Regions from separate parts of the Homo sapiens genome. Here region 2 is linked to region 1. The links come from fine-mapping of genetic effects on gene expression. A gene starts in region 1. The other region holds a variant in brackets. All regions are shown on one strand. Distances are between the middles of the regions.

What was found.
Region 2: its variant is fine-mapped to the expression of BCHE in putamen (GTEx, PIP above 0.99). The same link has a PIP of 0.9 or more in nucleus accumbens and prefrontal cortex.

Annotation. Positions count from the first base shown.
Region 1 is chr3:165,834,650-165,840,043 of GRCh38, reverse strand. It overlaps BCHE (butyrylcholinesterase), which reads left to right and starts at 2,621. Exons shown (of 4, transcript NM_000055.4): 1 at 2,621-2,730. RefSeq lists an enhancer at 2,509-2,803.
Region 2 is chr3:166,001,779-166,007,172 of GRCh38, reverse strand. No RefSeq gene overlaps it. Among named protein-coding and RNA genes, the nearest start is that of BCHE, 170 kb to the right of the region's middle. The variant A/T (reference allele first, on the strand shown) is at 2,537.

The DNA of each region.
Region 1 (5,394 bases):
GTGACTGGCTAACTGAAAGTGATCATAGAGCCAAAACCATAATGATTGTCCTGCCCAAGCTTCAGCATATATGGTTGCAAAATGTGCGCAGTGTTAATGCCGTGTCAAGTGTCTTGTGGTATTTCATCAGTGTCGCTTACAAGGCATACTCAACATTTAACAGCAGGATCATTAACCATCCATGCTGTGATGTAATGGAATAGTGCTTCCCTACTAACCCTGAAACAAGCTCACTGTGTGTGACCTACATCCTTCCGCTGGATGAGTGTGAGAAAATGATGACACCACAGAAGCAAAGCAGCTGCTGTAAGTTGAGCCACAAGGAAGAAACTCTCAAGACAGGAAGAATAAATGCTTTAGAGGTGCACTAAAATAATGAATGAACTAATGTGGCATAGCTGTGAAATCATGCGAGGAAAAGAACTACAGGGACAGTAACAGAAGGTGGTTCTTTGAAGTAAAGACATTGAGAAGAAGAAAAATTGCCAACTTGTGTAATCAGTTGATGTTGCTAGTTAGCCAGTTTAAACATGCGTTAAAGATAAAGATCTGCTTGAAACCAATTATTTTATTGTTTGGCTTCCTGTTTAAAGATGAAAATGAAATATGTGTATATATGTGACATATTTTACCTAGCAGTGAGTAGATGCAGGAAGCATGTAAAATGCTTTGCTGAATTCACTAACGTCACAAAATATTCCTTAATAATTGCCGCGTTTGATAGGCTGACCTTATGCTAGCACAGGAAACAATGCAGTGGACTTGGGTTGGAGAGAAGAATTTTGACATTTGGATTTTTAAAAATCATGTATATTGAACCCATGAACTCTCATGTGGAACATCAGATTTACTATATTTTAAACAGAAATGCCATCACTATAAAAACCATTGCAAATTTGTCAATATACTTCCATTTAAAAAGCCTTTTCCTGCTTTTATTGATTTATTGATTAATTTTTTTTTGAGACAGGATCTCACTCTGTCACCCACGATGAAGTGCAGTGGCACAATCGTGGCTTGCAGCCTCGACCTCCTAGGCTCAGGTGATACTCTTACCTCAGCTACCTCCCAAGTAACTGGGAATGTAGGCTTGCACCACCATGTCTGACCCATTTTCTTGCAGAAATTGAGTTTTGCTATGTTGTCCAGACTTGTCTTGAACTCCCAGACTGAAGCAATCCGCCCACTTAGGCCTCCTAAAATGTTGGGATTACAGTCATGAACCACTGTGCTCCACCTCCTTTTTCTCCTTTTCAGATAGATTATGTATTCTGTACCTTTTGTGTAACTAACTTGTTATTACATAAACTATATTCTAAATACATTATAAATTATTGTGATCATGATATTTATCATTGAATTAACACTGCCTAAGTAGCAATTTTCACAGAAAAGATAATTTTAAAAGACCAAAATGGTTATTCTCTTGGAAGCAGTTGACATAAAATAACAGAATAATACAGATTAAAATTCTGTTTTCCAACAGCTACTAGTGGTAAGAAATATAGTAAGCTTCTGATTTGTAGAAACCTTAGCTTTCTCATCTGATGAGGTGGTTAATAATATTAACTCTCATATTTGCTGAAATAATATAAAATATTTAATATAAATTGTCAATTATAATGACTGGCATAAGGTAGAATTACAACAAATGCTAATTATATTTGCTTGTTTGAAAATTTAACACTCTATTAAAAGGCAAAAAAGTGCTCACCTGCAAATATTAATACATGCCTTCTGTTTAGTCCATAGAAAGCCCACAAGTAAGAGATTCAAAAGTGAAAGCTATCACTTACAGAAGATTAAGAATATATTGCATTGAGAAGATAGGGATTAAGGAGTTTATCAAAGGTTTTTTAAAAAATTATTTTCCTGAACATCATTTCAAGAAAGATAAGCGCCAAAGACATAAATATATTCTCCAGAGCATGTGCACTGCAAGTTGACAAATGTGTCTCTTTTATAGAGTTTGGTGAAGGTTATTCATTTTATTTTTCCTGTCTTGACCAGAAAATTGTGGCTTCTCATCATGTATGACTGCCTGCAGGGTCTTCTGAATAGGAAATTACCAATGCTGAAATTTGTATGACTTAAATAAGTGTTGAAGTGTGGGGGTTGAAAGGAGATACATATCAGAGACATCCATTCAGTTAATAGAACTAAGTTTTTGATTTGCATAGCTTATATCTAGAGCATTGTGTTTCTTATTTTCTATATTACTATCTTCTCTAACTATATAATTAGCACAGATTGAAGCTATAATGGATTTCAATAATAGCACTACTTTAGAATGATGTATACGTCTTTAAATCTTAAGACAAGCATAGGAAATATGTATATTCTTAAAAAAAGGAAAATTTTTTTAAAGTTTAGAGTTAAAAGAAACATGCATTTTCTGTTACATTTCAGATTATTTTAGTTAAAGAATCTTCTATGCTTTTTTTCTTCATTCTTAGAAGACTACCTGCAATTGTAAAGCATGAATCCTGTAATACTTCTGTAAATGAATCACTATTGCATTTATACCATTAGCCTCTGAACAGATTTCAAGTTGCTGCTGCCAACTCTCGCGAGCTTTGTCAGTAACAGTTGATTGTTACATTCAGTAACACTGAATGTCAGTGCAGTCCAATTTACAGGCTGGAGCAGCAGCTGCATCCTGCATTTCCCCGAAGTATTACATGATTTTCACTCCTTGCAAACTTTGCCATCTTTGTTGCAGAGAATCGGGTAAGTTGCTCTGAATTTACACCTTCGTGTAGAGATCCAAGTTACTGTAAAGCTCATTCTGTGGGATGAGAGTGATCTCTTCATGTGTTTGTTGTGTCCCTTTGGTGCTCTGTGGGGAACAGTTACTGAAGCTTGCAAATGGGACAGAGGAAGTGAGCCAGCAGGCACATGCATCAAATCTTCCTATTATTCAGGGAACGCAGACTTTGTTTATTTAACTGCTGAGAAAATAATGAATTTATTCAACTCTGTATAAAGGACCATAGCACGTGTGGAATCACTGTGATATATATTCTTAGTGAGTTTCCTAAGAAAAAACATTTCATACTGGCTTACCCTTAAATGCATTGTTTATTGAATCTCTCTGTAAAAGTAATCTTTGATTAGTCTTCCTTTTTTTTTCTTTTTAAATGGGATAAAGTTAGTAGTTAACTTACTTTTTCCTGAACAAAATACTTTTCTCAATCAACATTTTGTCACCTAAAACTTTAACAGTAACAACTGGCAAATGAGAGGTCTGTTTATTTTATGTAAATAAAAACAAAACCTGTTTTCTAATTTGATTTACAGTGATTTATGAGCGTGTCCCCTTTGCCCTTTGTGTTCACTTTTTATATGTTTGTTTAAATTGTAGCAAAATATTTTACATTTGCTATTATTTTACTATTATAGAAATAGTAAGCAAATGTACTTTCTGCTCATCCTATAATCTTGTAAAACTATTATTTTGATAACATCAGTTCCACTTTAACCAGGGAATTAAATATTAAGGATTATAAAATCTATGAATGACTAAAAGTAAACTGAAATGTGATTTCATTGTTTATGATTTCTATTTATTATATATTTTTATTTTATGAGTATGTCTTCTACATTTTTATGAATATATTTCATGATAATAAACTCAATTAGGAGCTCCTGTCACTAGTCTGTGTAATGCCTTCCTTAATATAAACTATCTCATAGTTACAATAAATACAATGACAGTTTACTTATATAAGTAGTTACTTTGTTTAAGGATAAGCGTGAGCTTTTAAAGTGTGACTTTAACATTTGAATAAAAATCTTCAGAATTTTCTCTGGATATAAAATAAAGTAGTCTTTTGGATGCCAAATAAATTTCTAATTGGGTTATCAAAGTTCTGTTTTGTTCTCCTAATTTTTTGTTGTTGTTGTTTGTTTGTATTGTCCTAGTTTTTTAATTGTAAAAATATGTTTGGGATGTATTCCATATTTCATTTTTATAAAACATAAGCTACTAATAGCTAAACAAGTCACATCTTATCTATAAATTTGGTTCCTTCTTCGAGTCATTTCTTGATAAGTATAATATATATTTACATTGAATATTATCTTCATTTCGATGGTTTCTTGCCAGCATCTGCTCATTCTTACCAAAATTAGACGGTCCCAGATGTTAAGAGAATTGTAATTGAATAGATAGCAACCTAAGAGGAGATTTAATTTTCAGAGAAGACTCAAGAAATCTCTCTAATAAATGTTCAAATTATTCACACAATGAAGTTTGCAAATGTTCTTCCTAATTGAGGACAGATAAAACATCTTAAGTTTCTTATATCTAATGTAGTGTCTTCTATATGTATACATGCCTAAAGCATAGCTGAAGAATCCCTGAAAGACAGTGATGTAGTCTATTTATAATCAGACTTCCTCAATTCCCCACTTCACTTAGTCTGCAACAAAACAAGCTTTTTAAGTTTGATATAAAGACGTCGTTGTTCCAATTTCTTCAAATACATTTAAGAGAGCTTGTTCTAGATCATATTAATATTATCTAGATGGCTCTTTCTCTACCATTTTAAGAGGGTTTATTTCCAAGTAGAAATAAATATTTATTTAATTGTAACTTTTTAAAAGATAGGGAAATTATACACAGGGAAAATATTTTGAATATTTGCTTGAACATCTTTTAAAAATTCTTGGCTTGTCCCTTATTTTGAAAATCTGGTTGATATTCAAGTATCCCAAAAAATAGCTCTTTATACAAATTATTTTATCACACTCACATCTTATAGTATAACATTTAGTATTTTTTGTTAAAATCAGCTAGGGAATATTAATAGTACTTTCAAAATTGAATTAAAAATACAAAAAAAGATTTGTCACCTTTTTTATTTGAAAGTTATTGTTATAACAGTTTAGCATTTTCAAAAATTGCCAGTAAATTTTCTTAATTCCAAACAAAAACTCAGTTCCTCAAAAACTCAAATTCCTCAAAAACTCAATTCCTCAAAAACTAGAATGGTCTGAATTCCAAACAAAAACTCCTGTCTTTATTTCCAATATTAAATACTATTTTGATAAGCAAATTGATCTAAATTCAGATACACAGCTGTATTTGTGAAAATGTGCCCCATTTTTATGATAATGTTTATGCTACTATGTTCTCTCAGAATCATGTGAGACAGTATCCAATTGCACCAGAATTTATTAAAAGAAAAACGATCAAACCTGCACGTTGTGCACATGTACCCTAAAACTTAAAGTATAATAATAATAAAATTAAAAAAAAGAAAAACGATAATGTTTTGTTGAATATCCTAATCATTAATAAAAATTTTGAGATATAGACTCAATATTTTTATTCTATTTTCATTTATTTCTCTTTCGATTGCTCAATTACATGATAAACATATCAAAATT
Region 2 (5,394 bases), 170 kb before region 1:
GTTAGACCTAAAACCATAAAAACCCTAGAAGATAAACCTATTCAGGTTTTCAATACCATTCAGGACATAGGCATGGGCAAGGACTTCATGTCTAAAACACCAAAAGCAATGGCAACAAAAGCCAAAATTGACAAATGGGATCTAATTAAACTAAGGAGCTTCTGCACAGCAAAAGAAACTACCATCAGAGTGAACAGGCAGCCTACAGAATGGGAGAAAAATTTTGCAATCTACTCATCTGACAAGGGGCGAATATCCAGAATCTACAAAGAACTCAAACAAATTTACAGGAAAAAAACAAACAACTCCATCAACAAGTGGGCAAAGGATATGAACAGACACTTCTCAAAAGAAGACATTTATGCAGCCAACAGACACATGAAAAAAATGCTCATCATCACTGGCCATCAGAGAAATGCAAATCAAAACCACAATGAGATACCATCTCACACCAGTTAGAATGGCGATCATTAAAAAGTCAGGAAACAACAGGTGCTGGAGAGGATGTGGAGAAACAGGAACACTTATACACTGTTGGTGGGACTGTAAACTAGTTTAACCATTGTGGAAGAGACTGTGGTGATTACTCAGGGATCTAGAACTAGAAATACCACTTGACCCAGCCATCCCAGTATATATCCACTGGGTATACACCCAAAGGATTATAAATCATGCTGCTATAAAGACACATGCACACATATGTTTATTGTGGCACTATTCACAATAGCAAAGACTTGGAACCAACCCAAATGTCCAACAACGATAGACTGAATTAAGAAAATGTGGCACATATACACCATGGAATACTATGCAGCCATAAAAAAGGATGAGTTCATGTCCTTTCTAGGGACATGGATGAAGCTGGAAATCATCATTCTCAGCAAACTATCACAAGGACAAAAAACCAAACATCGCATGTTCTCACTCATAGGTGGGAATTGAACAATGAGAACACTTGGACACAGGAAGGGGAACATCACACACTGAGGCCTGTCGTGGGGTGGGGGGAGGGGGGAGGGATAGCATTAGGAGATATACCTAATGTAAAGGACGAGTTAATGGGTGCAGCACACCAACATGGCACATGTATACATATGTAACAAACCTGCACGTTGTGCACATGTACCCTAGAACTTAAAGTATAATAAATATGTATACATATTTTTTTTAAAAAAGAAAAGAAAAAGAAAGTGTAGTTATGATCAGATTTCTCTTCCTTTCCTCTACGTAATATTTCTTCTCTTCCATAGAAAAGTAACACCTGTTTCTGGCCACTTTGAAATTGGAGTTAGGGAATAGTGGTACAAAGTGAGAAAGGAGATAAGCTTTTTATCTGAGGAATTCAAGCCCCTTTAAATTATCAGGTCCAGAGAGAGAGAGTGAAATGTGACAGCAGTCAAATCTCTCTCCTCCCTTAGGCCAAACAATTACCCTTTGATGCCATTTGGTATGTTGGCTTTAGAGTGATTGATATCCAGTAGCCCTACAATGCCATATACCAAACACCATAACTCATATCCTATATTTCAACAATGTATGGTCAATTACTAATCAATGTTATTTATTTATGTATGCCAATGAGAATTCCTGTCGAATAACTGTGCATCAGCCACCTCCTTATTCCCATTTGCCTTTAAAAACTTGCTTCTAACAAAGGCTCAATTGAGCACTCACCAAGGCAACTAGGAAGTATATCCCAGGCAGCTTTCCTCATTTTAGCTCAAGTAAACTCTTTAAAATTATATTTTATCCTCAGCTTATTTCTTTAGGTCAACAGGATAAAGGAAGTTGAGAAAGATCTTACTTCAGAAATACTACCATGATGCACTCAGACAAGCCCAAACTTGGCAGATAGCTAAGTCTAACATGTTGTCCTGAGAAAAGTTCTCCAGTACTGAAGACCTCCCATCTGCAATGTCCTGTAGAGAGGAAATGCCTGCTGGATAGTCATTTATTCTCAGTTCCCAGGAATACTTTCCACTTCTCTCTGCTGAGATCTAGTTCCTCAGCCTGCGCAAAATCTAAAGTAACACATATTTGAATATCTTTCATGGGTTGACTCATGACCAAAAAAAGAAAAAAACAATGCTATCAATACCTTGCCCAAAAACTGTAGAAAGACAAAACAGCCAAAAAGGCACCTTTTTCTGCTTTGATAAACTACCCCACCATCTCTCACTCTTTCTCAGTTGTAAATCAGACAATATTTTAAGATGTCTGCTAAAGTACAGAGGAACACAAATGAAGAGCTCCACATGGTTTCTTCAGAGCATCATTTTTCTTATTTAAAGTTCTATTAGAATGCCACCTCTCTCTGGTTCTCATCCCCTCTGAGACTCACAGCACAATCCATAAGCCCTAGAGAAAAATAGTCTCCAAAGGTACTTCCACATCCCCAACTCTCAACTCTGTTAGATTCTCAATGTGAATAGTGGGAGAGGCTAGTCATTTAAATAGATGCACTTCTACTTTTAAGTTTATAATCTAGCATCTAACTTTAAATGTTTCCACCTAGTTTGTTTCAGCAATTTTTTTT[A/T]AAAATGAGTATATATGTCACTAGACAGAATGCTGAATATAACCACTGAAAGATCAGATTCTGTATTTCTAGAATTTTTTAATTGAATAAATGCATTTTATGTAACTAGAGCAAAGAAGACAACAAAAACCTAGGACTTAGAGCAGAAAGCAAAAAATAACAATAATCACACTGCATTAATGATGGTAATAACATGAAAACATTAATAAATATTAAAACAAAAAAAATGAGTGTTGTAGGACAAAGCCTGTCCCGTATCTCATCCTACTTTTACTCTAGCCATAAAGCCTCCTTGGAGATCCTCAGACAAATCACTTCCTTGTTGATCCCTTTAGCTGGAGCAACTAGAAGCTGCACCTTTTCAAGCCTTTGCTCAAATGCTATCTTTTCAAGGTGACAATGACTCTCTAAAATTCCAACCAAACTTCATCCCCTACACTCTCCATTCCCTTCACCATGTTATGTCAATTTATTACCATTAGAACTTATGTTTTCTAACAAAGTACATAGTTTACTGAAAACTATGTTAATTTTTTTAGATGTGATTCTTACCACTAAAATGTAGCAGCCAGAAGGAAGAGACTCTTTATAAATTTGCTCAAGGATGTTTTTATTGTTTTTAAATAAGTAATTGCCATTTAATCAACTATATTTATTTGTCAGTCTGTGCGTGTTTGAATGGATGTAAAATAGATACCTGGCAAGCAACTATGGTACCATCTCTTTGATATAAAGCCATATAAAGCAGTGGTCTTTAATGAAACTTAAGAGTACATAAAACATCTTTATACCCAAGTAATAGCATCTTTGAGATCTACCTTTTGTTCTCATTCACGCCTTGATTTAAATTAACAAATGTATTCTCCTAACACTAACATATAAATAATACCAAAATGTATACCCATACCTAAACCTCTATTTTTCTATCTTATATTTAAAAATCCCTATAATTTTTCAAATAGGTAGATGAGGACATATCTAAATATTAAGAGATAGACAGAGAGAGAGAGAGAGAAGGAATGAGAGACCCAGTCTTACTTCATTAATAAAGCCTTCTAGGGACATCAAAGGCACGGTTTCTCAAGGATAGCACTGATAATGACTTTGGATCCCAAATTGAATTGGATAGTAAAGTTGAAGGCTTAAATACGATGCATTAATTTTGTTCCTAAGCATACATCTCAGAGAAGTTCTTGTACATATCCTAACAGAACAGATGTACAAGAATGCCTAAGGACAGCATTATTTGTTTTAAAAAAGATAAAGATCAAAAATATGCCAATTATTTATCAAATCAACAAAGAAATTTTGAAATATTTACACAATGGAAGGCCATAGATCAGTGAACACAAATAAACAACAGTCGCTCACAAAACAGAGGTTCATTTAAAATACAAAATGGTGAGTAAATAACCAGTGTGATGGTTAATACTGAGTGTCAACTTGGTTGGATTGAATGATATAACCTATTAATCTTGGGTGTTTCTGGGAAGGGGTTGCCAAAAGAGATTAACATTTGAGTCAGTGAGCCGGGAAAGGCAGACCCACCTTAATCTAGGTGGGCACAATCTAATCAGATGCCAGCATGGCTAGAATATAAGCAGGCAGAAAAATGTAAAAAGTGAGACTGGCCTAGCCTCCCAGCCTACATATTTCTCCCATGTTGGATGGCTTCCTGACCTTGAACATTGGTCTCCAAGTTCTTCAGTTTTAGAACTCAGACTGGCTTTTCTTGCTCCTCAGCCTGCAGATAGCCTATTGTGGGACCTTGTGATCATATGAGTTAATACTTAATAAACTCCCATATATAAATTAATTAGGGAGATTGGGATGGTGGAGTGGATTAATCACTTTAGACCTACTCATCCCAGCTGGTAGGATCCAGAAAATATACCCTTGACCAATACCTTGCAAAATGACTTGTGAGGGCAGCACCTGCATCTTTGAAGAGCCCTGTAATTGCCCTTCTCTGTATGTCAGATCTAACAGTGGGAACCACAGTCACTCAATTAATTTAAATACAATGGGAATAATTGGATCCCAAAGTAGCAGGGGCCAAGTGGTGGCACTCAACCTTTAAAGACATGGTGAGCATAGCTACCGTAATAGACAGCAGAGGCAAAGCGGCAATCAGAATAGCCTGACTCCTGTAGAGCTCTGGCATTGGCTAATTAATCACAGTTTTCCTAGAAGTGAAATTGATAGGAAGCCTACTGTGTTCCTACTTATTTATATAAGCAGAAAACTTCTAGGTTGAATGGACAAAACACTAATTTGAATTATGAAAACAGAATCAAAGCCTCTCAATCAATTTCCAGATGTGAGCTAGCTTACAGACCCAGAACCCCCTGAATTAAGGGGAGGCCAGGTCCCCTTGAGGAAGGACCCCACTACATTACCAACAATTTATGTCGTGAACCTTTCTCCCATCCTTCCCCAAGGAGACCTTTGGCCTTTCACTGAGGTAACTCTGTATTGGGGAAAGGGAAATTATCAGCCATTTCAGGACTGCTGGACACTGGGTTTGAGCTGCCGTTGATTCCAGGGGACCCAAAATGTCACTGCGGTCCTCCAGTTAAAGCGGAAACTTATGTAGGTCAGGTAATTATTGGAGTTTTAGCATAGATCCAACTTACAATGTGTCCAGTGGGTCCCTGGACTCATCCTGTGGTCATTTCCCCAGTGTCAGAATGCATAGTTGGCATAGACATACTTGGCAGCTGGCAGAACCTCCATATTGGCTCCCTGACTGGTAAGGTGAGGGCTACTATGATGAGAAAGGCCAAATGGAAGCCATTAGAGCTGCCTCTGCCCAGAAAAATAGTAAATCAAAAACAATATTGCATTGCTGGAGAGAC